Linked DNA regions of Homo sapiens. The protein of the gene in region 4 interacts with the protein of the main gene of each other region in a pairwise test. Each region holds a gene or a part of one and is shown on either strand. Other genes may lie near its edges.

Region 1 (9,374 bases), on a different chromosome or scaffold from region 4:
AATGGGATCCCAGAAGACCCTCAAATTTGTTGAAAACAAGTGCTCAGTGTAGTCAAGAAAAACCAGCACTGAGACAGAAGACTTCCCAGCAAGGCATCTTTACTTCTGCAGAAGGGTGCTGCTTGCGCTGGTTGCAATCCCAAGAGCACCCGCCAACAAAGGAGGGAAGTGGTTTTTAACCCTAACGCAGTTCCTGTTTCTGTGTCCTTTCCCCATTGGCTGGGGGGTTGGACCGCACAATCTGAGCTGATCCCGATTGGCTAAGGTTTAAACTTTCCCAAATAGGGTAGACGTGCGACAAAGAAGAAAAAGCGGGAGTAGAATCTGTTTACAGCTTATGACCAGGAAATTGAGTCTTTGAAGAGGAACTTAGCTGTCCCAACAGAGGCATCCGAGAGGCCTGGAGGAGGTGATGCTGGACAGTAGGAATTGCCTGGTCCGACGCCCTGGCTGCCAGGGGCGCGCATCTTTGGGTCTTCCCTGCTAGAAGGTGAACTGAGTGTGTCCCTGGCGCTCTGGCAAAAGCCATGGAATGGGCCCACAGTGAGAATTCCAGCTTCGCCTCTTACTAGCTGGATAACCTAGGGAGCCGCGAGACCTCCCTGGGCCTCAGCCCCCGGTACAGTGGAGCCAACGGGAGAAACGGCCTCACGGGATTGATGCGGGGATTGAGCGGGGCACGGGCGGCGGACAAACGCGGGTCATTATACTCATCTCCCCCAGAGCATGCGTCCCAGCGCCACCCGCTTCCTCGCTCCGCGCCCGGCCTAGACCTTCCGACCCCGCCCCTGCGCGGGCCACAAGCAGGAATGCGAGCAGGCCTGGGGCGCGCGGGCCGCAGCCGCATTTCCGGGCCGGCGGGAGCGGGCGGCGGGGGAGGGGCGGTCGGGGCCTGCGCCGGCCGCCGTGTGACGCGCCCCCTCATTTGCATGCGGAGCGCCCATTGGCCACGGCGGCCGCCGGGACAGGAGGCGGGTCCCCTCCCCCTCCCGCCGCAGCGGCGGCAGCAGCTGGGCTCGGTGTAAACAAGTCCAGGCGCCTGCGAACCCGGGCCCGGGGGGGACGGCGCCCGCCAGGAGCGCCCCCCACTCCCAGGCCAGCCCACCCCGGCGGACCGGGCCCCGCGCGCCCAGGCGAGGTGAGGCCCGCGCCGTCAGGGCTGCGTGTCGCCCCGCGCCCCTGCCCAGCCCGCGAGGACTGCCCCCTCCCCCGGCGCCCGCCCCCACCCCCGCGCCCCAGGTGAGCCCCGGAGTCCAGGTAAGGCTCCGCGTTGCAGGTAAGAGCCCCTGAGCGTAGAGGAGGCCTTGGCGCCCGCAGGTGAGAGCCCCTCCCCTCCTAGGTGACCCTCAACCTTCACGGCGAGGCCTCCTACCTCCTCCAGGTGGGGGACCCTCTCCCCGATGAACCCCCTAAACCACCAGTGAACCCCACTGCTCTCCAGATGAGGTCGCAAGGACCAACCAGTGCCTACCCGCCCATGCTCCCCCGAAACTGGGAACTGACAGCCCAGCCCCTCCAAAGCCCCTTCCTCCAGCTTCAGCTGCCAGGTCAGCAAGGGTGAGGCCGGAAGCAGGCGGGTGACTCACCCTGGGCACCTCCGAGCCTCAGTTTCCCCATGGATGCAACCTGAGGCCTCCTCACTGAGTCAAAACCGAGACGCCTCTGGTCCCCGGAGAGGCTGCTGGCTCTGGGGAAAGGAGAGAGCAGCCCAGTGTGACAGAGCGAGTCCCCACGGCTCTGGGAGTGCCTCGCATGTGTGTGGCCCAGGTCCTGACAGCCCACCTACTCCCTCCCCGGCAGGCACTGGGCTCCCTCTGCTCCCCGTGGGCCGCTCCCCGCGTGGGGCCACTGCCCCCGGCCCCCGCCATGGTGCGGATTTCAAAGCCCAAGACGTTTCAGGCCTACTTGGATGATTGTCACCGGAGGTATAGCTGTGCCCACTGCCGCGCTCACCTGGCCAACCACGACGACCTCATCTCCAAGGTAACCAACCAGGCCACAGTGGGGCTGGAACCTATAGGGGCTGCCTGGCAGCTCCCCACCGGCAGCCCTGACCCCCTCCTCTCTTCCCACCCTCTCACCCTTTAGTCCTTCCAGGGCAGTCAGGGGCGTGCCTACCTCTTCAACTCAGTGTGAGTATCTGGCCTCCCTTCTTGCTTTCCCTGACCTCTGTTGTGACCTGTGACCCCTGGCATCCTGCTGAGACTCCCAGAGTTCCCCGGTGCAGGCAGGAAATTGTGAGCATCATTTCTTGGATGCTGAGGACAGACACAGTGCTTGAGGGGGTGGGCCCTGTGATGGCAGGACCCTCCCTGGGACTACCCCATGTCCCCACAGGGTGAACGTGGGCTGCGGGCCAGCCGAGGAGCGGGTGCTGCTGACCGGCCTCCATGCTGTCGCCGACATCCACTGCGAGAACTGCAAGACCACTTTGGGCTGGAAATATGTGAGTCACCCACCTCTGACCCCAGGCTAGCCTTTGACCTGACCTTCCAACACCTCCTCCTGACAAGCTGTCACCCTATAGCCTTTCAGATTGCATAGGCCGAGCTCACACAAGTCAGCATCCCTGACCACATTCTCTTTATCTTGCACCTTGCAAGGGGTGTAGAACTTTTCTCTTAACCCATCCCTTCTCTCCCAGGCACTTGGATCCCCATTAGAGAGTTAGGATATAATCAGAGTCACCATTTATGGAATGTTTATGTGCCTTGCACTGTTGTGTGCCTGGCGTCTATTATCTCATTCAATCATTGCAGTGATCCTCTAGGTAGAAGCTATTATTATCTCTACAGAAGAAGACAGGGAGGCCCAGAGATGTTAGGTAACTTGCCCAAGATCACCCAACTGGTAAGTAACAGAATAGGGACCAGAATCTGAGTTGGTTGGTTGGTTTTTTTTTTTCACTCCAAACCCTTGGTCACCAGCTTATATTGTCATTTAGAGTATCAGAAAAATTGCCCCAGACTCTGCAACAACATGGAGCTTGGGTTCACCAGCCTCCCTTTCCATAGTCCTCATTGCCACTGCTGCTGTCCAGGGTCTGATTTCACTACCCTGAGTCTCATTTCCTTATCTCTCAGTGGAAGATAAAGCCACTGCCTAGCACCCAGGATTGTTACAGGGATCAGATTAGATGCTCAGGAAGATGCTCTTGGGACACTGCAAGGGACAGGATTCTTCAGGCGTCGCTTGGAACTGTGGTGCCTCTGTGAGGTGGATGTCCCAGGCAGAGCCAGCCAGCCAGCCCTGACCTGAGCTCGCTGCTGACCCTGCCACAGATTGGCTGTGTGTCTCTGGACAGGTGGCTTGGCCACTCTGGACCTCTACCAAATAAAGAGCTGGCCGGCCAGGCACAGTGGCTCACACCTGTAATCCCAGCACTTTGGGAGGCCGAGGCGGGTGGATCACAAGGTCAGGAGATTGAGACCATCCTGGCTAACACGGTGAAACCCCATCTCTACCAAAAATACAAAAAAAAAAAAAAAAAATCAGCTGGGTGTGGTGGCGGGCGCCTCTAGTCCCAGCTACTCATGAGGTTGAGGCAGGAGAATTGCGTGAACCCAGGAGGCAGAGCCTTGCAGTGAGCGGAGACAGAGCGAGACTCCGTTTCAAAAATAATAATAATTAATAAAGAGCTGGCCTAAACAAGAGGTCAAAAACTCAAGTGCCAGGCTGGGTGTGGTGGCTCACGCCTGTAATCCCAGCACTTTTGGGAGTCTGAGGCAGGTGGATCACCTGAGGTCAGGAGTTCGAGAACAGCCTGACTAACATGGTGAAACCCCATCTCTACTAAAAATACAAAAATTAGCTCGGCGTGGTGGTGGGCGCCTGTAATCCCAGCTACTCGGGGCCAAGGCAGCAGAATCACTTGAACCCGGGAAGCGGAGGTTGCAGTGAGCCGATATCGCGCCGTTGCACTTCCAGCCTGGGCGACAGAGCAAGACTCCCTCTCAAAACCAAACAAACAAAAAAACCTCAAGTGCCTGCAAGGCCAAGCAGATACTGTAGATGTGTAAAGGGTAGCATAGATTGGCAGGGTTGGGAGTTGGGGGCAGGCTGGGCAAACTGGAGTGAGCAAGGCCTACTTATATTTTAATACTTTAAAGTTATTTTTATTAAACTGTCTGCTGTCCAAACATAATACATGTTGTAGGCCAAAATGGCCATGAAGCTACCAGTTTGCAAACCCTGAACTGTGAAATCTTTTAGCCACTTCCCTATCTTCTCTGTTGGAGCCATCATTAGTACTTAAAAAAGTACCTTTGAGTCAGGGAGTTCTATTCTACTCTGTGTTTGTGAGAAATACGGCCCTGCCCCTCTGGGCCACAGTTTCCTCATATGTAAAATGGGGCCACTCATGTCCACTTCCCAACCCCAGTGCCTTGTGGTGAGACTGTTGCTCCGGGGATGACGGTCCCGCCCCTCCTTTCAGGAACAGGCCTTTGAGAGCAGCCAGAAGTACAAAGAGGGGAAGTACATCATTGAACTCAACCACATGATCAAAGACAACGGCTGGGACTGACCCCCGCTCCCCCGACGCATGTGGCTCCAGCCCGGCCTGGCCGCCAGGGAGCGCCACTGGCTTCCCGCCACCCGAAGGGAGCTCTGGACCCTCAGAGCCCCTGCAGAGGACGGATCTAGCTCCTGTATATATATTTTATTGCATGCACTGTGACCTTGGGGGGAGAACAGAAGGGGGACGACGCCCCCGCACCTCCTGCGATCTGGCTGGCTTGGATCTCGTTTTTAACCCGTTCCTGCCCCACCTGCCCTATAGTTATGGCCTGTGTTCTGCTCTCCTGGTCCCAGTGCACCGTCTGCTCTGTGAACTCCTCCCACCAGGCCCTTCTTACCCCACGCGTGTCTGTCCCCCTCGTTCTGTAGCGTTTGTACATAATAAAACAATGGAGTGGAGACAGCTCAGGCTCGCGTGTAATCCGGGAAGGGGGAGCTCAAGCGGAGATTTCCGCCCCTATAGACCTGTGCGGTTCTGAGCCCCGGCGGGGCATGGGGTAGGCACAGCCGTCCAAGCTGGGTCTCCGGGAACCGGGACGGTTTCACTGCTGGCGGAGGTCCTGAGCCCACTCTGGCTGCCTACGCCGTGACCTCGGCTGATCTGCGTCTGCTCATCTGCAGCGTTTGGCCGCCGCCTAGGGGCAGCGTCCCAGGGAGGCAACCGCGCCGCCGGCCTCGCAGCCCCCTCGCGGTCGGACTGCAACTCCCAGCGGCCCCCGCGTGGTCCGTCCGGCTCCTTCGGGCGCGCCTCAGCGCTGAGCCTGCCGGGAAGTGTAGTTCCGAGGGTTCCCCAGCGCGGGACCTTCGGGAAACCCTGGCGCGAGGCGTCAGAAGCTGTCGGACTGTGAGCGCCTTCGAACTTTGGAGGCTTGGCTCGGGATGGAGGTTTTTTTAGCATGGGGACCAGGGAGGACTACGGTGCTCGGGACTGGGCTGCGGCCTCCTCGCGGCCCCGAGTGCCCTGTGAAATCAGCTCAGGCCGCGTCCCTCTAGCCTGCACTTTCCCTCTGTTCACGCTGCTTCCCTCCAGGGCCCGGCCTCCAAGTGAAGGGGGGCGGAGGGCGGTCACCTGCCAGAAGGTCTGGGGCGCCAAGGTGTGTCCCGGGACTCTTGGCTCCGTCCAGGTTCCAGGCCCCGCCCCCCAGCTTATCCCTAGCCGGGGCTCCCCACCGTGGGAACGGGGACCAGCTGGCCGGAAGCGCCAAACTGCGTCCCTGTCCGAGCCCTGGGGATCAATCAAGCCGAGGAGTTAATTATGTAATGAGGGGGCAGGGGGTCGAGGCTAATGAAGCCTCCCGGGGTGGGGAGGGAGGGGAGGAGGGGACCGTACCCAGGTATCCGACCCCCTCTCGGACCCCTTCGAGGCCCCAGGGGTCTCCACCCCAGCCCAACTCCAGGGCCCCAAAGAGGGGAGGGGCTGTGATCCTGGATCTGGAAGGGGCTGAGCTGTGAGCTATAAAGGGGGCATCTCGCAGCACCGGGGGCCCTAAGCAGCGAGACCTGAGGCCAGACGGAACTACAACATGTACCATCCACGAGAATTGTACCCGTCCCTGGGGGCCGGCTACCGCCTGGGGCCCGCCCAACCTGGGGCCGACTCCAGCTTCCCACCCGCCCTAGCGGAGGGCTACCGCTACCCCGGTGAGCGTTGGGACCAGCTCCTGGGTAGGAGAATAGGGGGGCTGTGGCCCTCGGCTGGCTCCTCATTCTTCCCCGGCTTCCAGAACTGGACACCCCTAAACTGGATTGCTTCCTCTCCGGGATGGAGGCTGCTCCCCGCACCCTGGCCGCGCACCCACCTCTGCCCCTTCTGCCCCCTGCCATGGGCACTGAGCCGGCCCCATCAGCTCCAGAGGCCCTCCATTCCCTCCCGGGGGTCAGCCTGAGCCTGGAGAACCGGGAGCTATGGAAGGAGTTCAGCTCTGTGGGAACAGAAATGATCATCACCAAAGCTGGGAGGTGAGGGGCTGGCCAGGGTCCGTGTTTCTGGTGGGGGTCTCTTGGGAAAGGCAGAGTCCCTGGGGAGGGGGCTAGGACTGGGTGGTTCCCGAGGGGCTAGAGCTCTGCCTAGGCCTAGAATCTGACTATGGCCTGGGGCAAGGGTTACTCTGTGGCAGGAATCAGGAGTCACTCTGTGACAAGGGTTAAGGGCCAGTCTGTGGAGTCTGTGGCTGAGTTTAGGGACCAATCTATGGCAAGGGTCATGGGTCAGTCTGGGGCAGGGTCAGGAAGTCCCTCTGGGTTATAGGTTAGTGTGTGGCTTAGACCAGCATCCAGACAAGGACAGGGGGTCAAGGGCCAGCCCATTGACCAGCATCAGGGAAATCTGGCCAGGATTCGGGATCAGTATGCAACTCGAATAGGAGTCAGTATATGACTAGGTCCAGGGTCACCCTAGAGGCAGGGACACGGTCAGTGTTTGACCTTAGATGAGGTCTTTAGCTGGGGCAGGAACTCAAGCCCTAGCATGGAAAGTCCTCGGCCCTACTGCAGGCAGGGTATATTTTTTCTAAAGCAAATTCATCTAAGAGCTGCAGATTCTGGTGCTGGAGATCAGGGGAGGAGAGGAGGGTGGGGACAGGAAGCTCCTAGCAAGAAAGTTAGTCACCCCTGCTTCTGCAAATAGGCTTTGAGGGGTAGGAGTCATGGCTCTGTTCCTAACCTGCTGTGTGACAGATCACTTAACCCGTCTGTCCTGTTTCCCCAAATGTAAAATGAGACAAGAAAACCTTCCAGCTCTAAGATTCCGCCCTCTGGCTTCTTTTTTTTTTTTTTTTTTTTTTTGAGATGGAGTCTCGCTCTGTTGCCCAGGCTAGAGTGTAGTGGCACGATCTCGTCAGCTCACCGCAACCTCTGCTTCCTGGATTCAAGCGATTCTCCTGCCTCAGCCTCCCGAGTAGCTGGGACTATAGGCACACACCACCACACCCGGCTAATTTTTGTAGTTTTAGTAGAGACGGTGTTTCACCATATTGGCCAGGCTGGTCTCAAACTTCTGACCTCATGATCCTTCCACCTCGGCTTCCTAAAGTGCTGAGATTACAGGCATGAGCCACTGCGCCTGGCCCTTTTTCATTTTTCAGAGACAGTGTCTTGCCCTGTTGCCCAGGCTGGAGTGCAGTGGTGCAATTGTGGCTCACTGTAGTCTTGACTTCCCAGGCTCAAGTGACCCTCCCGCCTCAGCCTCTGTAGTAACTGGGACTATCAGTGTGCACCACCATGCCTGGCTAATTTTTTAATTTTTTTGTAGAGATGGGGTCTTTCTATGTTGCCCAGGCTGGTCTTGAATTCCTGACTCAAGAGATCCTCCCACCTTGGCCTCCCAAAGTATAGGGATTAGAGGTGTGAGCCACAGCCTCCAGCCTGCCCTCTGGGTTCTAATTCCACCTCCTTTGATGTTTCTCTGACAGCTCTGGGGAGCCCGTTGTTATGTCCCGTTACTGGTGCTGGGCCCACCCCTGGCCAGTGGGTAGCTCCAGGCCTCTCCTGTCCCCTCCCTTGCACAGGCGCATGTTCCCTGCCTGCCGAGTGTCAGTCACTGGCCTGGACCCCGAGGCCCGCTACTTGTTTCTTCTGGATGTGATTCCGGTGGATGGGGCTCGCTACCGCTGGCAGGGCCGGCGCTGGGAGCCCAGCGGCAAGGCAGAGCCCCGCCTGCCTGACCGTGTCTACATTCACCCCGACTCTCCTGCCACTGGTGCACATTGGATGCGGCAGCCTGTGTCTTTCCATCGTGTCAAGCTCACCAACAGCACGCTGGACCCCCACGGCCACGTGAGGCCCAGGCTGGGACTCCAGGATAGGGTTGGGGGGTGCTGGAAGGGAGGCCAAGGGTGAGGCGCAGGGCAGGGAATCACTCCCATTTCCTCCCTCCCAGCTGATCCTGCACTCCATGCACAAGTACCAACCCCGCATACACCTAGTTCGGGCAGCCCAGCTCTGCAGCCAGCACTGGGGGGGCATGGCCTCCTTCCGCTTCCCCGAGACCACATTCATCTCCGTGACAGCCTACCAGAACCCACAGGTGAGTGACCCTGCTTGAGGGGGTGGTGGCCCCCTGCCCAGACCGCAGTTGCTTTGACCCTGCATGTGTGTCCCCAGATCACACAACTGAAGATTGCAGCCAATCCCTTTGCCAAAGGCTTCCGGGAGAACGGCAGAAACTGTAAGAGGTGGGAGTTGTTCATTCATTTGTTCATGCATTCAACAAATGTTTATTAATCACTCACTGTGTGCCAGGCACCGTGCTGGACATCAGAAATGCAGTGGTAAGTGAAAACATTCATTCACTGACTCAGCAAATACTTATATAGTACCTGCTATGTGCCAGGGACAGTTCCAGGCACTGGAGATAAAACAAACAAAGCAAACCAAAGCCCCGGCCCTCATGCAGCTGATTTCTAGTGGGGAGAGTAGACAAGCAGACAAGAGAAATAAATAAAATGTCATCTGTTAGGAAGCCATTCTAAAGAGAAGAGAGACCAGGTGTGGTGGCTCACGCATGTAATCCCAGCACTCTGGGAGGCTGAGGCGGGCAGATCACCTGAGGCCAGGAGTTCGAGACCAGCCTGCCAACATGGTGAAACCCTGTCTCTGCTAAAAATACAAAAATTAGCCAGGCATGGTGGCAAACGCCTGTAATCCCAACTACTTGGGAGGCTGAGGCAGGAGAATCTCTTGAACCCAGGAGGTGGAGGTTGCAGTGAGTCGAGATCATGCCATTGCATTCCAGCCTAGGCAACACGAGCAAAACTTCCTCTCAAAAAAAAAAAAAAAAAGAAAGAAAAGAAAACTCTGTCTCAAAAAAAAAAAAAAAAAGAAAAAAAAGAAAAAGGAGAAGAGAAATAAACCAGGAA
Region 2 (9,536 bases), on a different chromosome or scaffold from region 4:
GACCTTGAACCAGCACGTGGAGCAGCTGCGCGGCGCCTTCGACCAGACAGTGTCCCTGGCCGTGGGCTTCATTCTGGGCAGCGCGGCCGCCGAGCGAGGGGTCCTCAGGGACCCGTGCCAGTGAGTCCCGGCTGCGGCCAGTCTCCCCTCTCCAGGCCGAGGCCCCTCCGCCCTGACCCCTCCTGCTGCCTTCCCACCCCCGTTCTTGGGTATGTTCAATAAAAGGATTGTTTTCCTAGAGTCCGGGCTGTGTAGGAGTGCGGGTCTGGAGACGGGGAGGGAGTGGCGCCCTGCAGTGCTGGGGCTGCAAAGGTCAGGGCAGGGTTGCGACGCTCTCATCACAGAGAGGGGCTCCCACTCGCTCCTAAGGTGTAGACAGAGCTCCGTGGGGCGCACCCAAATGTAGGCCGAGGAGGCCAGGCTCGAGGGTGGTGGGCGTGGTGCCTGCTGCCGGGTCCTGGTCACACACTCGGTTCTCAAGGCCACACCAGACTCTCCCTGCCCCTCCCGGGGAGCCCCACTGAGTAAAACGAAGTGAACGGGTGGGCTCCGCTGGGGGTCCGGAGAGAACCTGAGGCTGACCCCACCTCTTCACTCAATGCAGGGGTAGGGGTTAGAGTGGTCGCCTCCACACTGCCCAGCAGAGAACCCCCTTTGACCCAGGAGTAGCATGGGGGGTTCCGAAGGTCCTCCCATGGCCTCGGGCAGCCTTGGACCACCCGGCTGAACTCTCCCAGGTCCTGGGAAACAAAAGGGGAAGAGAAGCCACAGAGCTCCAGGGAGGATGCTGGTTTTGTCTCCAGGGAGGTGGCTCTGGTCTGGGTGGGCCTAGGGAGGCGCTGAGCGTCTGGGGTGTGATCCTTGGGCAGAGGCTGAGGGCAGGGTCCTTGCAATTTTGAGAAAACCGAAGCAAACCTGCCCAGGAAGCATTTTCCAAGTAGCAATAGAGGGCCCCACCCTGGACCCCTGAGTCAGAAGAGGGATTGGCTGGAGCCGGAGATACAAATGTAGCCTGGAGGAGTTCCGCTAGCATAACAATGCCTGCAAATTAGTGGGCCCATCCAGAAAGACAAGTGGTTTGCCCAGGGCCATGCAGCTAAATGGGGCTGGGGGGGTCCCCGCTGGCCCAGCACCCAGCAGTCCTGAGGGGTTCCCTGTGGGTGGTATGGTTGCAGCCCCTCCTGCACATGCTTTTCTGGGTATCCAGAAGAATAGTTCCCGCTAGTGCTAAAGGCTGCTCCTGGGGAAATGAACGGCTTGCCCAGGTCTGAGGGGGAGGCCTGTGAGACCACGCCTGCAAGAACTGACTCCAAGCCTCACCTCATTTAAGAAACTGAGGCGCCGGACGCTGTGGCTCACGCCTGTAATCCTAACACTTTGGGAGGCTGAGGTGGGTGGATTGCCTGAGCTCGCTCAGGAGTTCGAGACCAGCCTGGGCAACATGGTGAAACCCCATCTCTACTAAAAATACAAAAATTAGCCGGGTGTGGTGGCGGGTGCCTGTAGTCCCAGTTACTCGGGAGGCTGAGGCAGGAGAAGTGCTGAACCCAGGAGGCGGAGGTTGCAGTGAGCCAAGATTGCGCCACTGCACACCAGCCTGGGCAACAGAGACTCTGTCTCAAAAAACAAAAAAACACTCTGAAGGCAGACGCGGTGGCTCACGCCTGTAATCCCAGGTCTTTGGGAGGCCAGAGGCGGGCAGATCACAAACGAGGTCAGGAGTTTGAGACCAGCCTAACCAACATGGTAAAACCCCATCTCTACTAAAAATGCAAAAATTAGGCATGGTGGCGTGAGCCTGTAATCCCAGCTACTCGGGAGGCTGAGGCAGGAGGAGGCAGGAGAATCGCTTGAACCTGGGAAGTGGAGGTTGTGCACTGCACTCCAGCCTGGGTGACAGAGCGAGACTCCGTCTCAAAAAAAAAAAAAAAAAATAGACACCCTAGGCCAGGCTAGGTGGCTCACGCCTATAATATCAACACTTTGGGAGGCCTGGGCGGAAAGATCACTTTGAGCTCAGGCATTCCAAACCAGCATGGGCAACATGGTGAGACCCCGTCTCACATCAGCTCCACCCTGCTGTGTTTCCTGAGAATCTTCAAGCTGCTAAAAGCCTGTTGGATGAGCCAAGCTTGCAAACATTCCCCCTCACATACACAGCCCCCAAAGGTCAGAGTCACAGGCTGAGGCCACAGTGGGGTCTGAAACAGAGCTTAGGTGCACCCTACATGACCCTGTCGCTCCAGAAGGTTACTGCTGACAGCAAGCCCAGGTCCAGACAGCCACATCCCAGCAAACACACCAGCACCCTAAGGGTGGGGGCTGTGCCGCTCTATCACTCGGGTTACTGGACACTCGGCCCTGGAGGAAGGACCCATCTCTGGGCTGGAGCAATTTAGGGGCACCAAGCAGAATTAATCTGCCTTCCTACTCAGGTAGTGGGGCAGGGGCCACGTGCTATGATCCTCCTGAGCCCGGTATCAGAATAATGAATCTGAATACATGGGCCCCGGACCTCTAATGCTTTCTAATCTGGTGCAGAGAGTGTATTTTGGCTGTTTAAATCAATCTAGGGGCCAGATGCGGTGGCTCATGCCTGTAATACCAGCACTTTGGGAGGCTGAGGCAGGAGAATTACTTGAGCTCAGGAGTTTGAGACCAGCCTGGCCAACATGATAAAATCCCATCTCTACAAAATACACAAAAATTAACTGGACATGGTGGCACGCACCTGCAGTCCCAGCTTCACTGGAGGCTCAGGCAGGAGGATCACTTGGGCCCTGGAGATCGAGGCTGCAGTGAGCTGTGATCACATGAGGCGCTCCGGCCTGGGCAACAGTGAAAGCCTGTCTCCAAAATAAGTAAGGCGCTCTGTAGGCATGGCAGGATTAGCCTCCTGTGTGCTGTTTAATGGGGCCAGTGTCTGAGCACAGTTGGTTTAGCGTTACCTTTTTTTTTTTAGATGGAGTCTGGCTCTTGTTGCCCAGGCTGGAGTGCAATGGTGCGATCTTGGCTCACCACAACCTCCGCCTCCTGGATTCAAGCGATTCTCCTGTCTCAGCCTCCCGAATAGCTGGGATTACAGGCATGTATCACCACGCCTGGCTAATTTTGTATTTTAGTAGAGACAGGGTTTCACCATGCTGGTCAGGCTGGTCTCGAACTCCCAATCTCAGGTGACCCGACCACCTTGGCCTCCCGAAGTGCTGGGATTACAGGCGTGAGCTACCGCACCTGGCCGGCTTAGCGTTTCTTTATCGGCCATGCACCAGACCAGCCCCACTTCCTAGTGGACGTGTCGGGGAGCGGGGAACATGGGGGAGTCGGGGAGCGGGGAGTGTGGGGGAGTCGGGGAGGGGAGCGTGGGGGTGTCAGGGAAGGGGGCGTGGGGTGTCGGTGAGGGGGGCATGGAGGTGTCGGGGAGGGGGGCGTGGAGGTGTTGGGGAGCGGGGATCGTGGGGCGTCGGGGAAGGGGGCACGTGGGATGTCAGGGAGGCCGAGGCCACAGGGGTGGGTGTTGGGGAGGGGTTGGGGAATCTCTACAAACTTTTTTTAAAGTCTGGTTAATTGACGTGTAATTCACATACAGTAAAACTCACCATTTGTAGTGTACGGTTCTACGAATTTGTAAAAATACATATAGTTGTGCAACCAAAACCACAATTGAGTTACGGAACATTTCCATAACAACAAGAAACTTTTTTTGTGTCCCTTTATAGTCACCTGCTCCCTGACTCCCAGCCCTGGCAACCATTGATCTATTTTCTGTTCCTATAGTTTCGCTTTTTCTAGAGGGCCATATGAATGGAATCATACAATGTGCAGCCTTTTCAGCCGAGTCTCACTCTGTCGCCCAGGCTGGAGTGCAGGGGCACGATCTCGGCTCACTGCAACCTCCATCTCCCAGGTTCAAGAGATTCTCCTGCCTCAGCCTCCTGAGTAGCTGGCCTCCCCCTCAGGTGGTCCCAGAGTGCTCGGAGGAGGCTCGGGCGAGTCGCGACGGGGCCGGCAGCACGCGCTGGGCCCGGTGTCTGTCCTCAGGCCCTGGACTCGGGGGGAGCGCGTTTCGGGGACTAGCTGGACTCCGGGCTGTGCGTGGGGGCGGTGCTGTCGGCCTGGGAGTGACGCGGGACTTCCTGCCCAGCGCAACCCGGCCTGGCCCCCGAGGGTGGGGGACAGGGCGACGCCCGCGGGGACCACGCTCTGGGGCGTGCGGGGCGCAATTCACGGGGCTGGGCTGCCCCAGGGGCTGGGAGGAAGGAGGCAGGGGGGCGCCCAAGTCTCCTACCCATGGCAGCGCATCAGGGCGCGTCCCAGAGCCGGGGGTGGACGGAGGCTTGGAGGCGGAGGCTTTGGGGACCCCCAAGCCTGGGCTAGAGCAGCCTCGGCGGGCTCTAGAGGGAGGGTGGAGGGAGGGGCCCGGGCTGCAGGAGGCGGGGAGGCCTGAGCCACGGTGGTGGGGCCGCTGGGCAGGAGAGAGGGGCTGCCTGACCCTGCCGTGTGAAGGTGAGGTTGTCTTCGGGCTTGGGGGGATCGGAGGGGGCGGTTCAGGTGGAGGTGGTGGCGGGGGGCTGGGAAACCGGCAGGAGGGGCTCTATGTAGAGCTGGGGGTGGGGGTGCTGAACCACGTACAGAAGGGGGCTGAGACACCGGGGCCCTGGGCCCCGGAAATTAGAAATGGAGAAATGGAAGGCTGGGTGCTGGCGTTTCGGAAATGCATGCTCGTGGTGTTCCTCTTTATGTAAGGGAAGCTTCTGGGCCTTTTCCCTGCCTGTCGAACGTTCTGTATGTTTTTGCGGGATGTGTGAGGTGTGCTGTCTTGCTCCACTTTGAGGCACCGCCCCCACTGCGGGAGTGCTGGGGACCTGCCCCATGGGGCATCCTCGGGGCCAGCCCTGTGGCCACAGGCATCTGGGCCCTCGCTGCCCCTGGCCGGGACACACTGCCGGTCCTGTGCAGTGGCTCAAAGCCCCTCTACCGGGGGTGACCCGGTCTCTCCGGAGATGAAGTGCAGCGGGGGTCTAGGCCGGCTTCCTGGCCCCCCACCCCTCCTGGCTTTACCCCCGAGGCCACGTCCAAAGCCCCCAGCGCCCCACCCCCGCCAGCCTCCCCCTTGAGGGCCCAGTGACCTAACTGGGCCGGCAGGGTCCGAGGAAGACCAGGGTCAGCGGCGGCACGGTCCGTTCCGCGACCCCTCTCCTGTGACCCCAGGTAGGCCGCCGATCGGTTCCCGGCTGAGGTCCCGCCCCAGCGCCCGCCTCCCGGGCTCCAACCTCTTTGCTCAGCCCGGGAGGCTCGGCTGGCTGGGGCGGGCGTAACCGTGGGGCGAGGCCCGCCGGTCTTTCTGATTTCCGCGGGCGGCGTGGGCGCTGAGGCAGCCGCGGTCAGGACCTGGCCGGGAGTCGGGGCTGCTCCGTGGACCCCGCGTCTGCGCCGAAACCCCGCATGGCTTCGGGGGCCGGACCTGCGCCTCCGCCTAACTCCGGCCGCCGGAGACGCCGTGCGGACCCCAAGCCAGTGCGCGGAAGACACCGTCCTACCCTCGGCATGGCTGCCTCCCACCCGGTCACGTCGGTCCCCGCGCCCCACGCCGACGCGCAGGCGACCCGGGGACGCGGAGACGCAGACAGCTCGGGACTCAGGTTCGTGGGAGCAGCGGCCGCGCGTGGCTATGACCGTCCCGGGGGCCCGTGCTCAGGGCGTCCCCGTGAGGTTTGGGCGCCACAGTCACCGGCGGCTCTGCCCGCGCCCTGGCCACAGTGGGGACAGCCTGGCTTGGCGGGGACGCACCAGTCCCGCCGCCGACGCGGAGTTCCTACCCCGCCGTGCGAGGCAGTGGCTCCGGCCCTTCCAGCTCGGGATGGAGTCAGGGAGCCGCCCGCGCCCGAATGCAGAGGCTCCTGCGATGGCCCCGGAGTGAGTCCCCCAGAGGAGCCGGATTAGGGCTGGAGGCGGCCGAGTCCCCCGAGAGGCCCCTCCCGACATTCCCGCCCCCGCGCGCCGCTCCCCGGGTCCTCCGCGTCTCTTTCCCGGGAAAGCCTCCCTCGGTTCCTGCGCGGCCGCACAGCCTGGACGCAGCGCACGCGGGCACCGGCCTGACTCTCCCACCCCGAAGCCTGCTCCCAACCTAAGTCCGCCCTGACTCTCCCAGCCTGAAGCCTGCTCGCCCTCGGGTGTCCGGGCTGGGCACAGGCGCCAGCGTCCCCCTGGAGAGGAGAGGTCGCCCGGCACCTCCCAGGACAGGCCCAAGTGGGAGTGGGACCCTCCTACCTTCCTGCAGCCTCGGCCCGCGGGGTGGGGGGTTGGGAGAGATGAAAGGAGGTGACCGATCCCGAACCATCGCCTCTCCATTAACCAGGGCCCGCAGCCCCGCCCCTCCCCCAGACATCGAGGAGCCGGGGAGGTGTGAACGGCCTCCTTTGTGCCTCTGAATCGAAGGCAATTAGGCGCTGCTTATCTGGGCATTAGCCGTGTATGCAAACCGGGCTCCCGCCCCCTCCTCCTGGGCTTATAAACGCCGCCGCCTGGCGAGGCCCGAGGTGGATCCTGCGCCTGGCCAGCCCCGCCTGGCCTTCCCTCCGGCCCACCTGGCCGCCATGCGCCTCTCCTCCTCCCCACCTCGTGGCCCGCAGCAGCTCTCCAGCTTTGGCTCCGTGGACTGGCTCTCCCAGAGCAGCTGCTCAGGGCCGACCCACACCCCCAGGCCTGCCGACTTCTCCCTGGGGAGCCTCCCTGGCCCAGGCCAGACATCCGGCGCCCGGGAGCCCCCTCAGGCCGTCAGCATCAAGGAGGCCGCCGGGTCCTCAAATCTGCCTGCGCCGGAGAGGACCATGGCCGGTAGGTCCGGGTGGGGGGGGTCCCTTCCTTCCCAGGTGGAGATGGGAGTGGGGGAGAGGCCAGGAGCCCGGCGGCTGCACTCCCCGCGGTGCCCTGCCCACTAGGTCAGGGCCGGGGGCGTTTCCATGAGGGCCGGCGGAGGCCTTGCCGGCGCCCTCACTGGAGCGCAGCTTCCCTCGGAACCAAAGCCTTGACGGGGATTTCCTCTCCTTGAGCCCCCGGTGGGCTCCTCTGCCTCCTTTTGTCACCCCGTTCCTCAGCTGTGTCTTCGTCCCCCACCCCGGCCTGGTGCCGAGGGACCGTCCAAGGGGTCCCCGTCCGCACCTCCCTGCCCTGATTCCGGGCGCTCACTGAAAGTCTCGATGATTTGCCAAGCCCCCCGCCCCCGCCCCCCAGCACAGCCGGTGCCTGCTCAGCGTCTAGGCTCAAGCCCATTCCGGGTCACCTGGAGCACAGCTGTCTTTAAAGAGCCTGCAGGTTCGCTGCAGGGGTGGCGGTGACCCCGATGCCTGCAGAAACTCTGAAGTTCCCTCTGTGGCCGCCCAGATGCTCTGTTGTCTGCTGAGAACAAAGGTTCTCTGCGTTTGTGTTTTAGTCTTTGTGACATCATCACCACTTTTAGGTTTAAGGTAGTACTTGGTCAAAAGTGGGGTTGACATCATCTACAAGTTTTCATTTTTAAAAATTTGACTGATCCTTATGGAGTGACTTTGTACTTAAGGGAAATGAAAATTTAAATGTATTCTCCCCAGCTAGCTATCCTGCCCCACCCCAAAAAAGCCAGCCATCCCTGTCCCGCAACCCCCTTTCTGATGCCAGTCCTACAGCCCTCCCTGCCAGAAGGCATTTGCTTTTTGGGTCTACCATGTGCTTTCAGGCTAACGTTAAGACAGATTTTGTAAAATACGCTTCCTTCCGCAGAAACTCCAGCGAGCATTTTGGTCAGACTTGCATTTAATGTCGAGCTCGATTGGCCACGTTGGCCTTTCCTGGGACCCAGACCCAGCTCCACAGACCACCTCGTGGGGCCGTTTGGTGCCAGCCCCCATTCCTTAACTTAGAAATTAGGAAACAGACTTGACCACAGTGGGCCTGGGGATTAACTGAGTTGGCCTCCGCTGGCTGAGGAGACGGAGCCCGGGACAGGGATGGGTGCCCCTGGGTGGGTCGCCAGGCCTTTGCATATAATGGATTCTTACCTTACCGGCCTGGAAGGCTGTGGGAAGGGCATCCTGGGAACCGGCTTCTGGAAGGGAAGTGTGGGATGGGGCGGAACTGAGTGGACTGAGCGGAGGGCAGGCCCAAGCTGCTGTTAACATTCCCTCCCCTCTTGAGCCCCCTCTCTGAGCCCCCTTTCCGCATGTGACCTGGGAGGCGGCGGGGGTGCTGCTGGTCACTGTCAGGTGAGAAGATCTGCCCTGCCCAGCCCCCAGCATGGCTGTCTTCACCTGTTACCCGTGGGCACGAGCTTGCCCCATGGGGTGGCATGTTGAGCCAAATGCCCTTACCCTCTATGTCAGGGTTGAGTAAGGAGCCAAATACCTTGCGGGCCCCCCGTGTCCGCACAGCCTTCACCATGGAGCAGGTCCGCACCTTGGAGGGCGTCTTCCAGCACCACCAGTACCTGAGCCCTCTGGAGCGGAAGAGGCTGGCCAGGGAGATGCAGCTCTCAGAGGTCCAGGTGAGGTGGGCCGGGCAGGCTGGGGTGGGCAGGGGTGGGCAAGGGTGGGCTGGTGGCCTAGTCTCACCCCTGTTCTGATCTTGCTTTTCCTACAGATAAAAACCTGGTTTCAGAATCGCCGCATGAAACACAAACGGCAAATGCAGGACCCCCAGCTGCACAGCCCCTTCTCGGGGTCTCTCCATGCGCCCCCAGCTTTCTACTCAACGTCTTCTGGCCTTGCCAATGGCCTGCAGCTGCTGTGCCCTTGGGCACCCCTGTCCGGGCCCCAGGCTCTGATGCTGCCCCCTGGCTCCTTCTGGGGTCTCTGCCAAGTGGCACAAGAGGCCCTGGCATCTGCGGGAGCTTCCTGCTGCGGGCAGCCTCTGGCGTCCCACCCCCCTACCCCAGGCCGGCCTTCGCTGGGACCAGCCCTGTCCACGGGGCCCCGGGGCCTGTGTGCTATGCCACAGACGGGGGATGCATTTTGAGGAGGCACCTCTGACTCCCACACTCGCGGTCTTGCTGATCGCACCTGGCTCCTACCTGGAGGACTCAGTTGTTCTGTTTACATCCTGGTGGCACCTCTCACCCTGACCCACACAAAGGTTCTGGAGATTACTGGAGAATATATATAAATATATATATGTACGTATATATGTAAATACACATATACGTATATATAAATATATATATACATATGTGTGTGTATATATATATATATTTTTTTTTTTTTTTTTTTTTTTGAGACGGAGTGTTGCTCTGTCACCCAGGCTGGAGTGCAATGACGCAATCTCGGCTCACTGCAACCTCCGCCTCCTGGGTTCAAGCGATTCTCCAGCCTCAGCCTCCCGAGTAGCTGGGATTACAGACACCCGCCACCACGCCCGGCTAATTTTTTCTATTTTTAGTAGAAATGGGGTTTCACCATGTTAGCCAGGCTGGTCTCAAACTCCTGACCCTGTGATCCGCCCGCCTCGGCCTCCCAAAGTGCTGGGATTACAGGCATGAGCCACTGCACCCGGCCCTGAGAATATAT
Region 3 (6,940 bases), on a different chromosome or scaffold from region 4:
CCTGGGACCCAAACCGAAAGTCAGCGGCCAGGTCGCACAAACGCAGCCTCGGTGGGATCCCGGGCGTCAGGTTCCGGCAGGCAGGCAGGGAAAGTGTGCGCTGATTTTTAGTTTCTGGCTTGAAATTATGGAAAACACACACACACACACAGGGCGGACGAGGAGGAGCTGGGTATATAGATTTTTTAAATGAGAAACAAAAAAGGTCGGAGAACAGGAAGCCAAACCTGGTTTGGCGGAGACCTTGGTGCTTTCGAAGCCGGAGAAAGTGGCTGGCTCCCGGCAGCCGCGGAGGCGCCAGCTGCTCAGGCTGCAGACAAATCTAAACCCTTGCTTGCTGCCAACATCTCTCTCCGTGCACTTCACTGAGGACTTTGCCAAAGGAAAGAGCTGAGGAAATTGAGGAGGCCGGGTTAAGGGCGTAGAAAGAAACAAAACAGAGACAGAAAGAATTGAGACAGAGTGGGGAAAGGAAATAATTTGGGATTGAGGAGGCTTTTGGAGCTTTATGCATATTTGAAGAGTTCAGTTTTAGTAGTGACTGGTTTTAAGAGTGGGTTTGAGGGGTGGAGAAAGTCCGAGGAAGGCAAGGAAGAACTTGTTGTCTATTAGACTCCATGAGGGTGTTTTCAAAACACCAGATTCCCCTCTTTGGCCTTTAAAAATAATCAAGACACAGGTCCGGAACAGTTAAAAAAAAAAAAAGTTCCCACGAGCTCAGGGTTGTAGCCTGGCATCAGACAAAACATTCTGGGCCCCCTGCCCCCAAGAGGCCGGGAACTGGGTCTCCTTTCCTATTCTGATTTTCCCGGGTGAGATCTGAGAACCATGCTTGAGACTTCGGGTTTAACGCCCGAGTCAGGGAAGAATTTGCGGCGTTGAGTTCTCTCCGGCCCAGATTACGCTATAAAATGTGAGTGTATGTAGGGAGTGGGGTGGGTTGGAGGAGGCGACCAGGGGATGCGGAGCGTCGGGGAGGGGGCAGGGGGAGGAGAGAAAAGCAATAGGGCAGGAGAATAAGCCGCAAACGTGAAAACTAGAAACCAGGAGCCAGGTGGAAGCAATCCGAAATCGTGTGTAGCTCTGGGTAATACGAGTTTCCAGATCTGATGCTAAAAACCGACTCCTCCTACTATTAATTTTTTTAAACATAAAAATAAAATGTAGATCCAATTGTATTAGGGATTACAATAGAGTTAAGATATTTATAATTCCACTGCAGATGTAAGAATTTATTGACGTTCCGGGTTTTTAAGCTTGCAAAGTGCTAATCCTGGGCTGCTGGCTTTTTGTTTTATTTTTTTTCTATTTGTTTAGTTTTTGAAAAACGGCCGCGGTATTTTTTTCTAATTAGACCCCTCTCATTCTACTTTGGCACCAGGGGAGAAGCCCTTCAAGTGCGAGTTTGAGGGCTGTGACCGGCGCTTCGCTAACAGCAGCGACCGCAAGAAGCACATGCACGTGCACACGAGCGACAAGCCCTATCTTTGCAAGATGTGCGACAAGTCCTACACGCATCCCAGTTCGCTGCGCAAACACATGAAGGTAATCGCCGCACTCTCGTCGCCCCCTTTGAGGCAGGAGCTCTCTTGGCTCTCGGCTTGGGGTCGGGCGGCGAGTGGCAGACAGGCGGTGGCGGGAGCCAGAGGAAGCGGGAAGGCAAAGGTTCCACTCAGTGGAACTGGGCAGAGAAGGTAGGGCGGGACCTGGAAAAGGGGATGGGAGTGTCCAAGGCCGTTTTAAATTTTTGGTTTAATAATAAAAGTTAAAAGAGGCGAGTATGAGCAAAGGCCGCCACTGAATTTGGCCCAGAGCTAGGGCTTTTGCAGGGGGTTGACGCTGCGGAAACTGCTGCCCTTGCAGCTGCCAGTGAGACGCAAGAATTGGACTCCTGCGCCCAGGCCTGAGCTCTGGCTCACCTAAACATGGACAAGCAAAGTTCAGGGAAAGAAAGTGCAGTCTCTGGCCTCATATCCAGTCTCCCTCTTCCCAGACCTATTTTTCTTTTGTGAGTCTTGGGGACCCTGACTTTCCCAGGAGCACGGTTTCTGCAGGCCTGTGCAGAGAAACCAAGCCCAAAGTCCCGCTGATCGGGCCTCACCTGTGTTCAGGGGGCTCCAAGGGGTCCAGGAGGAAGGGCACTCGCGGCCTTCGCCTCTCTAGTCGGCCGCCGCACTGGCTCTTTATGTCCGTAAAAACGCGACTTTATTCCTGCAGGTCCACGAATCCTCCTCGCAGGGCTCGCAGCCTTCGCCGGCCGCCAGCTCTGGCTACGAATCCTCCACGCCTCCCACCATCGTGTCTCCCTCCACAGACAACCCGACCACAAGCTCCTTATCGCCCTCCTCCTCCGCAGTCCACCACACAGCCGGCCACAGTGCGCTCTCTTCCAATTTTAACGAATGGTACGTTTAAAATCAGAAACAAAACATCGAACAAAACCCTATTTAAGAGACTGATCACACACGTATACACAACATTACTGAAAGAACCCTGCGAATCAAAACAACCCCCACACAGACCCCGCAATCCTTTTTTAAAAAATCTGCCAATAGACCCAGGACGAGTAAGAGAGGAAGCATCAACCTTTTAAAAATTTCCTTTCGCTTTCATTATTTTTCTTTTTTTGGCAAAGGCTTGGTACCCAAGGTGCGGTAGGGGGTCGAGGGGGAGGAGGCCACCTGACCAAATGCCGCCAACCCCGAGGGCCAGTTTCTTGTCGAATTGGTACGGGCTCTCTGGGGCTTCGGCTTCTTTTTTTCTTTGTTTTCTTGTAAATACAGAATTATTAGCTTAAAACTGTACTGTTGAATTCTGTAAATAGTTATATCTCGGTTGGAGCGGGTGGGTGGGATTGTGGCGTTGTGGTCTTTGCATTGGGGGAGGGGGGAGGGACCGGATGGGCGGGGGGAGGGGGAGGGGGAGGGGTGGGCGGCCGAAAGCCAACTGTTTGTACTGAATGGCAAGAATGTTCTAGTAAATGTGTACCAAAATGTGAATTACTTTGTACGATTACAGTCTCCACGTCGACCTAACCCAATATTATTGGTATTAATGTGCTTTTTTTGTATAAAGTGCAAACATTTCGTCCCAAAGTCTAAGTACTTTAGTGCAGTAAAATGTTGTTTCATGTCCTGTCAAGAATTCGTATAGTACGAGCCTGGATCTGCGTGTCAAACTGTTCCATTTGTTTATGTAAAGTGATATTAAAAAAGATATAAACTATAACTGTCCGTTACTTTTGGCAAAAGATACAACCACATAATGTATATAATTCCTAGTTTCCATATTTATCCGCATGTAAAGGGCCGGTTTATCCATGTTACAGCTCTTCAATATTTATGGCTAGAAGAACTCGTATGTACACTTTAGTTTCCAGAACTGTTTGGTAACCTTTCGTACCTTATTAAAGATTCTTAAATCTCCGTGATTGTGGTAGGAATTTCTTCTTCACCCACCAGCAACCTGCTGCCTCTTCTGCCAGTCTTAAAGGGTCTCCAGAAAAGCTCTCCAGTCTCCCTTGCCTTCCCTTTCTGTCACTGCAGGTCGTATAAACGTGATAAATGAATGCTACCCTGCTGGCTCTCCGAGAGAGTGTAATTAGTATTTATATCAAAATTTATGAAACAAATTTTCGGCCGCAGTATAATTTAAATGACCTTTGCAGATGTAGAATAACAACCATAAAAATAACAGGAATAGATTGCACAGGCGACATCAATATTAATGTAGACGAATTGTCAGAAGCTCAGGGGCTCGCTCTGCAACATTGCAAATGAACTTGCAGCCGAGGGTTCCGCTGCCCCCTAGATTAAATTCCCCGGGCTGAAACTGAGTTGCAGATTTACAATATCATATTTTAAATTGCTGTCTTCAATTAAACCATTTATGACCATAACTAATTTTCAGGATGTCGATGCATGCTTTTCCAGGCCTTCCTTCTTTGTACAAAAGTAAATGTCCATAAAGCGTTTCACTTATATTCTTCAAACATGATGCTAATTTAAATTAATTACTTCCTATGATATGTTATTATTCCTATGATTTTGCCACTGTTATTAGTTCTCTCAAAAATACATCTAGGGAAGAGGATTATTTTAAGTAATTTGATTATCTTTCTATCTCTTTTATTTATTTCTCATTTACTTAAGAAATTCGTTCCATTGGTTGGCATTGATACAGTAAATTTGTAAATGAGGAGACAATATAAAAAATCTAAATTACTTGTGCTTAATGACTGTAGCAGAATGCCTTTTCTCTAAATCAGATTGTCTTTCTTGCAGTTTAGTTTGATAGATTTGCAAGCTATGCTGCTTCCATGAAGTTAGCTGCGCTGGTAGGAACGCAGGCTTCTTTGTCTCTGGTTGTAGCTTGCATGATCGCCCCATTAGGCAGACAACGTAGCCGGAGATCACAAATCAGGCCCTTGGCTGTAGTTGCTAGTGTGTGGAGGTGCAGAGCAGGTGGCAGAAACTGACCTCACTGGGCAAGGGTGGCCATGGACCTGATTCTTTAATGCACTCTATGTGTTCAGGAAGCCACAGGCCATATTTGACTCTGAGAAAGAAAACAAGAGGAAAAACCCCACAAAGTATAACAACCCCTTAAGATACATCTATTTTAAAGTGAAATTAATTTTTCAGTTTATACCATTGGCCAATTACAAGATAAAAATGTTCAATTTCTTTAAGAATCCTTTGTTGACTTGTCTTTTCATCTCTTGCTATTTATATTTGTCACTGTTTCAACAAAGTCTTATTTGCTGAGGAAGGACTTTGCTGCACTTACTGTACCACATCAAACACTGGGGAGGGTGGTGTTTAACTTTTTAAAAAATGTTATTCTGATTATAACAATAATATTGGCTTTTTTCATGAAAAGAGCGCCACCTTGCAAGGTTTAGTGAGATTTATGGAAGTTGAATACCTAAGCAGGAATTGCTGCTAGCTCCAAAAATTTGCGAAGCAAAAGCTAGCCCCAATTGGTTTGGAAGTTTGAAACTGATTAACAGATTTGCATTTGAAGTGACTCCAGACATTAGGTCCAGACATTAGTTAAAAATAGAAAGAGGAATAAAGACATCTCTTCTCTCTAGAAAAGATAACACCACAATTAATAATCCTTCCCACTTTCATTGAGATCAGCTTGTCTGATAACCTGATATGAGTGTGATAATGATAAACATGATAATAGTGGTACTTTTGTAATTTTGCTGGTGCATTTAAGAAGATAGTAAATGATGAGTTCATCTTTTCTTCGAACATTCCTATTCCTAGATGTAGTTTACCTCAAATTGGGAATTATAACTGTCTAATTTTTGTTGTGTACCTGATGCCCCTTTTGCTTTAATACCACAGTGTAACAATTAAATATCACACTATGACATATGATTTAAGTAGGATATTTTAAAGATAAATTTTAGGGGTAAATGTTTACTTCAAAATGACTCCATATTTCAAATATCTGTTTAGACTGTGAAGGCCAAATAATTTTTAAGAAAACATTTGAAGAGTAGTGTGTTTGCATTTGTGAATAATCTTACTCACAGCAAGTAAACGTAATAAAAGCCAACATTTAAGCCAACCCTCCTGTGCATTCTCTTTTCCAACACCTATCACAAAGAAAAAGTCATTAATGATGTAGGTGGCCTAAAATAATCCTTCGAAGTTAAATGTAGTCTATTATTTTGCTGGTACCTTTAATATCTGCTTCTTGAGATGTATTCTTCATACTTTTTTTCATGGGCTATTAGGTTTTGAAATACATAAATGTGAACAGCAAAATATATTGTTAGACTCTCTTTAGCAGGAGCTGAAGATGCTGCAAATAGCTGTTTCCTGTGTGTAGCTTTAGATTCTGACTTAGGTAGAATGCTGTCCTGGTTCATTTTGCAATTGCATTGTATTCTGAATACTATCAAATGATTAGAACAGCTAACAAGTTATTAAAAAGTTATGTTGTGTCAACAGAAAATGCCTGAGTACAAGCAATCATATTTGAGAAATGAAGAGAAATGAGTTGTGGTATGTGTGTGTGTGCATTTGTAGAGCAAGCATATAAATATACAAGCACCATTTATATGGGGGCTAAGTAATTTCAAACATTTCAGATCCTTTGTTTTCTTCTTCAAAAGCTACCCCCAACTGCTTTAAGCGTTTGCAGCTGATGATTTTGATTTTTTAAAGTCAAGCATTCAAGTTAACCTTTAAAAAGCAAACCACCTCCAAAAGAAAGATGTAACCTTTCAATTGCCCCATCTGCTTATCTTTTTTTTTTCTTTCTTTCTTATTTTTTTTTTTTCCTGACAATGAAAGTAGCACTAACCTTCTTTGCTGATAGGCCTGGCATTTAGATGCTTTTATTGTGAAGTTTTCTCAGAACTTTTAAAGGGCTGGCCAGAGAATTATACCCTCAAGTACCTCACCTAGCCCCAAAAGCTTCCAGAAGTTTTCTTTTTGAGGCCAACATTAAATCAGTGTCTAGGACCCCTTGTGAGTCGGTGCTGTTGGAGTTGTTACCTGAGCATACTGCTTTTCAGGAAGTGAGTTGGAGAAGGCCCTAGACCTTAAAGAGAAGATTTAGTTTAAGATGTTATGAGGAGTTACTGCAGGTGGTCTGGCACACTCAAAATAAAGGAACTTGTGCCCTTGGCTGTGGACTAGATATAAAGACATCAGCTCTTACACATTCCCAAGTTACATTTCTTTTCTTTTTCCAACTTATAATACCGATTACAAATTTATCTCCTCCTCTCTAGGTACAGAGTTCTGGCTTCCTTGTAGCATCAAGTGTAGTTCTTAGAATCATGTGTTCGTATTTGTGGGGAAAAGCATTTTCATAAAGATAGTCACAGTTGATATCAACTGTTTTAGAATTATTGAAAATAGTGTTGGCAATGGAAAGATTGATCTTGTCTGTGCCGTCAAGCCGCTAAAGGTAC
Region 4 (4,501 bases):
CACCCACCAGGTGGCAGCTTCTGACCAGAACCTCCCCTATTGGGGTGAGCCCTGAAGGGGGGAAGAACTTCTGCCAGCCCCAGACTTCTGTGGCAGAGCAGCAGGTACAGGACTGGGGGTCTCTGGCACCCGCACCAGCCACGTTCCCAGACCCTGCACCAGGACCCTAGGTGAGGGCCCAGGGCAAGCCCCTCTGGGATGGCCAGGCTACCTGCCCAGCCTCCAGGGTCCTGCTGCCTCCTTGCCCAAGCATTGTTTCTCTGGTTTTAAGCCCCTCCAATGGGCCTCACTGGGGGCAGGAGATCAGCCAGGGCCCCTGGTGGCCAAGCTAGTGGGAACCAGGCTCGTCTTTAGGCCCACCCTGTCACTCTCCCGTCCAAGGCCACATAGTAGGCTGAGGATGGCAAACACTGCCCCACAGACACCTACAGGTACGTATTTTTCCAGGAAGCTGCGGTTCTGGAACCTGGAGTTTGAGAGCCAGTCTTTCCTGTATAGACAGGTAGGCTCTGTTCTGGGGCCGTCCCCAGGGGGTGGGGCTGAGGGTGGGCAGGCCCCTGTGCAGTCTTGGCTCTGGGTCGTGGGCGGCTCTGGGTCACAGGTACGGAGGATGACGGCTGTGCTGGTGGGTCACGGGCGGCTCTGGGTCACAGGTACGGAGGATGACGGCTGTGCTGGTGGGTCACGGGCGGCTCTGGGTCACAGGTGGCTCTGGGTCACAGGTACGGAGGATGACGGCTGTGCTGGTGGCCGTGGGGCTGGGGGCTTTGGCACCTGCCCAGGTGAAGACGATTCTGGAGAGCCAAGATCCCCTGGGCAAGCACCAGACACGTGTAGCCCCAGCCCACGGCTTATTCCTCAAGTCAGTGCTGTACGGGAACCTCGGTAAGAAAAACAGGCACGAGAAGCTCCTGTCATGTGCCCAGTGACTACTGTGGCCGAGGCATGGGGTGGGGGGCCAGGGGCCACTGACGGCAGCAACTGGGGGTGAAGCAGCCCCCCGCCCAGGGCTGCAGTCCCTCAGGCCAGCCCGTAGCCCGTCCTGGGCTGGCCCACTCCCTGGTCATGGGAGTGGTCTCAGCGGTGGGGAGGGTGCTGGGCCGGTCTTGCCCCAGGCTGACGCAGGGTCTGGTCCGTCCACAGGTGCTGCCTCCTGCACCCTGCAGGGGCCACAGTTCGGGAGCCACGGATGACCCTGGACACTCAAGCCAAAGTTAGGCCACACCAGGCCCAACCCTGTGCTGGTCAAGCCAGGGCAGTCACAGCTGCTTGGGGCCCACAGCACTGCTGCCTGGTCTCCACAGTAGCCTCCCTGCCCGGGTCCCAGCACCCTGGATGCCCGTCTCTGTCCCAGGCGGGATGGGGCACAGTGCAGGACACAGCCATGTACACCAAGAAGAGAGTACCAAGTAGTCTTTTGTTCAGCTTTTACTGGAAACTGCTGTCTAGGACCACCTGCCCTAACCAGGAATAAAGGCAAGACAGCCTGGAGACCAGTTTGTTTCTTCAGCTGCAAACAGCTGCCTGGGCAGGCAGGTGACACAAGGCCTCTGTCCCCAGGGATGGGACCTGCAGGGTCTGTTCACCCAGGGCACCCACAGTCCTGAAGTGCAGGCCCAGGGTCTGTCCAGCTGGGAGAGGGCAGAGGTGGCGGCTGGGTGAGTTGCCGGCCTCAGCTGGGGGCCTGGGGGAGGCCCTTCTTCAGCAGAGATGTGAGGAAGCTCCCCAGCTCCTCGTCCTAGGGCAGAGGCAAAAGCATTGTGGGTGGTGCAGGACAGGGAGGAATGTTGATACCTGTGTTGACCGCGGTGGGGTGGGGGTCACCCCTTACCTGGTAGGTCCAGGAGACCAGCAGCACCTTGGTGCCTGGGTCCTCAGAAGGGGCGGCGGCCTGGAGGAGGACGGACTCCACAGTCACAGAGCCGTCTGGGAGGTGCTGCACACAGTGGTCCTTCAGGACGCTGTGGGGAGGCTCGGTGAGACCCTGCCTGGCCTCCAGGGCCCAAGGGAGTGGGGGGGGGGCGGGGCCGGGCGCCCACCTCTTGAGGTGGCTGTAGACGCGCAATGCCGTCTCCTGCTCCTTGCGTGTGTCATGCAGGTGCACGCGGCAGGTGAAGCGCAGCTGGTGCTCAGCCAGACCCAGCTCTTTGAGGGCTTGCTCTGAGGACACCAGCCGGAAGTTCTGTGGGGCAGGGACAGGTCAGTGAGCGCAGCAGCGGCCCTCCCCCCTCCAGAGACCGTCCTGGCACTCACGCTGTCCTTCATGATCAGGGTGCCGTGCAGGAGCCGAGGCTTCTTGGCCTCAGGGAGCAGCCCTGCGGAGGAGGTGGCAGGAGCCATCAATGTGAGGGCCGCTCCCAGCCGCCTGCCCCGAGCACCCTGCCCTGCCCTGCCCAGCCCGCATACCCTGCGCCATCTCCCGCTTCAGCAGCCCCAGCGAGATGCCTACGGGGATGCTGGGGCTTGTGGGCAGCGTCACCGTCTCGCCATTGGCCGGCATGTAGCAGTTGACCCCTGGACCCCGGGGGAAGAGAGAGCCTCAGCCCAGGCTGCCCGTGCTGACCCGAGGTGGGCCCCACGCCGCCCGCCCGGCTGCCTACGGAGCTCCTGCTCGATCTTCTGCTTCAGGAACTCCATCTTCTTGGCCTCGCCATGCACCAGCAGCACGCTCTCCGGCTCTGCCTGGCCCACCAGCTGCATGATGCCCTTGGCGTCCGCGTGTGCGCTGAATGACATGTACTCCACCTGCATCTTGACCTCCAGCTACAGAGGCCACGGGGCGTGGACAGTGGTTACCACCAGGAGGTGCCCCTCGGCCCTGCCAGCCCAGTGCGGGGTCGAGACTCACCACCTGCCGCCCCTCCATCTCGAGCTTCCGCTGCCCGCTGAGGATCTTGTGGCCGACGGTGCCCTGCACGCAGTAGCCGGGCATGATGACCTGGGGGCAGGCACAGAGCTCACAGCCAGGGAACTCCAGCCTTGGCACCTCAAGGCCTTGCCCGGGATGCCCCCGCCTGAACCCCTGGAAGCTGTTTCCACCTGCCAGCGGCGCCCGACCAAGCCTAGCTGCAGACTCCAAAGGGCTCAGGTTTTGGCACAAGACTGTCCAGGGCTGGGCTGGGGCTGTTCTGCCCGAGGTGGACAAGCTGTGTCACAGAGACTGAGCAGCTCCAGGCGGACATCGCCCCCGTTCCCCAGCAGCAGCAGCCACGTCCCTTGGCCAGCACGAGGCCAAGCCAGTGAGAGCTCAGAGACAGCATGGGTGGAAGGACAACCCGTCGGCCTCCAGCTTCCAGATTCCCACACCTCACCATGCCCTCACCATGTTCTTTTCGTTTCCGGCCCATTTCCGGAAGATCTGCAGGGACTGCCCAGCGTGCAGCATTCCTGGCGTGGCAAACACAACCTACAGGACACACAGGGCCAGGTGGGGGGTCAGGGCAGCAGATGCCCCCACCCCCACTGCAGGCCCAAGCCCAGACACCTGCGGAAGACAGGAGACCGACGGGTGTGGATGTGCTGGCCGGCCCTGCCGCGGGCCTCACCATCGGTCCTGGGTTGTCAGCAAAAGCCCGGTCGAAGGCCTTGATGTGCTTGAACTCAAACATGTTCCTCTGCACGAAAGTCTTGCGGATCTTCTGGTTGGTCCAGGGGATGAACAGCTTGTAGTAGTGGTTGGCCTTCTCGGTCAGCCCCGTGGAGAAGTAGATGGGCACCTTCAGGTTCATGCGCTCCCTGGGGACCACCGGCCCAGTCAGCACAGTGGCCACAGGGGAGAATGCTGCAGGGCAGGACTCGGCCGGGTCACCCCCAACACCCGTGTCTGCACAGCCCACGCACGGGCCAGGTTGAGTCCAGTCGCGACCACTTGTCCCATTAAGCCCTGCAGCAGCCGGGCTCAGCGGAGAACCAGGAACCCCTACAAGAGCCGCACACGGTGGCGCTGACGGGATGTCACAGGCTTCCTGGGGTCACACAGCACACGAGCGGCCCCCCAGGACAGCAGCAAGCAGGGCCAAGATGCCACCGCTACGCTGGACAGGGCTGCCCACCAACTGGACTGTGTTCAGGCCGGGCCAGGGGCTCCTTAAAGAGCCGTCCTGGCGGCACCTACCAGAAGGTCTCCAGGAGGATGCAGAGCTCCTGGGCGCGGCCCAGCGCGAACACAGGTATCAGCACCTGAGGGGGACACAAGGCAGGAGCCCTGGGCACATGGCCCCTCGACACAGCAGGCAGCGTCCAGTGAGGGCACGGCCAGGTGCCCAAGAGCTGCGGCCTCATAGGGACCTTAGCCTCTCATCTGCTCCCAGTCCCGTCCCAGCCGCTCTCCAGAGACAGAAGGGAGCCGTATGAGAGACAGGAGGGAGCCGCATGAGAGACAGAAGGGAGCTGCATGAGAGACAGAAGGAGCCTGGCCAGGGCTTCGTCCGCACCTGAGGTAGGAGGGAAAAGGGGCTCCCTAGGAAAGGGTCTCTGAGTTTTCCTCCTCAATGTTGAGCAA

The links.
Region 1: the proteins of INTS11 (region 4) and TBX6 interact in binary tests that used the Homo sapiens proteins (3 or more experiments, as listed by UniProt).
Region 2: the proteins of INTS11 (region 4) and VENTX interact in binary tests that used the Homo sapiens proteins (3 or more experiments, as listed by UniProt).
Region 3: the proteins of INTS11 (region 4) and ZIC1 interact in binary tests that used the Homo sapiens proteins (3 or more experiments, as listed by UniProt).

The regions. Positions count from the first base shown.
Region 1 is NC_000016.10:30,087,861-30,097,234, reverse strand, and holds the start of TBX6 (T-box transcription factor TBX6), read left to right. Parts: upstream 1-5,310; 5' UTR 5,311-5,362; intron 5,363-5,700; exon of another isoform or gene 5,701-5,993; 5' UTR 5,994-6,041; coding exon 6,042-6,159; intron 6,160-6,242; coding exon 6,243-6,477; intron 6,478-8,024; coding exon 8,025-8,292; intron 8,293-8,395; coding exon 8,396-8,542; intron 8,543-8,619; coding exon 8,620-8,690; intron 8,691-9,374. Other genes in the region: YPEL3 (protein yippee-like 3), read left to right, coding at 1,753-1,983, 2,089-2,132, 2,338-2,446, 4,436-4,525. UniProt on the Homo sapiens protein: T-box transcription factor that plays an essential role in the determination of the fate of axial stem cells: neural vs mesodermal. Acts in part by down-regulating, a specific enhancer (N1) of SOX2, to inhibit neural development.
Region 2 is NC_000010.11:133,231,319-133,240,854, forward strand, and holds the start of VENTX (homeobox protein VENTX), read left to right. Parts: upstream 1-6,536; 5' UTR 6,537-6,596; coding exon 6,597-6,837; intron 6,838-8,357; coding exon 8,358-8,518; intron 8,519-8,613; coding exon 8,614-8,988; 3' UTR 8,989-9,536. Other genes in the region: UTF1 (undifferentiated embryonic cell transcription factor 1), read left to right, coding at 1-124. UniProt on the Homo sapiens protein: May be involved in ventralization.
Region 3 is NC_000003.12:147,411,137-147,418,076, forward strand, and holds the end of ZIC1 (zinc finger protein ZIC 1), read left to right. Parts: intron 1-1,381; coding exon 1,382-1,545; intron 1,546-2,217; coding exon 2,218-2,415; 3' UTR 2,416-5,583; downstream 5,584-6,940. UniProt on the Homo sapiens protein: Acts as a transcriptional activator. Involved in neurogenesis. Plays important roles in the early stage of organogenesis of the CNS, as well as during dorsal spinal cord development and maturation of the cerebellum.
Region 4 is NC_000001.11:1,310,187-1,314,687, forward strand, and holds the end of INTS11 (integrator complex subunit 11), read right to left. Parts: intron 4,180-4,501; coding exon 4,115-4,179; intron 3,736-4,114; coding exon 3,546-3,735; intron 3,407-3,545; coding exon 3,323-3,406; intron 2,939-3,322; coding exon 2,849-2,938; intron 2,764-2,848; coding exon 2,601-2,763; intron 2,515-2,600; coding exon 2,407-2,514; intron 2,381-2,406; exon of another isoform or gene 2,316-2,380; coding exon 2,254-2,315; intron 2,183-2,253; coding exon 2,040-2,182; intron 1,962-2,039; coding exon 1,832-1,961; intron 1,739-1,831; coding exon 1,673-1,738; 3' UTR 1,475-1,672; downstream 1-1,474. Other genes in the region: PUSL1 (tRNA pseudouridine synthase-like 1), read left to right, coding at 448-502, 706-885, 1,144-1,474.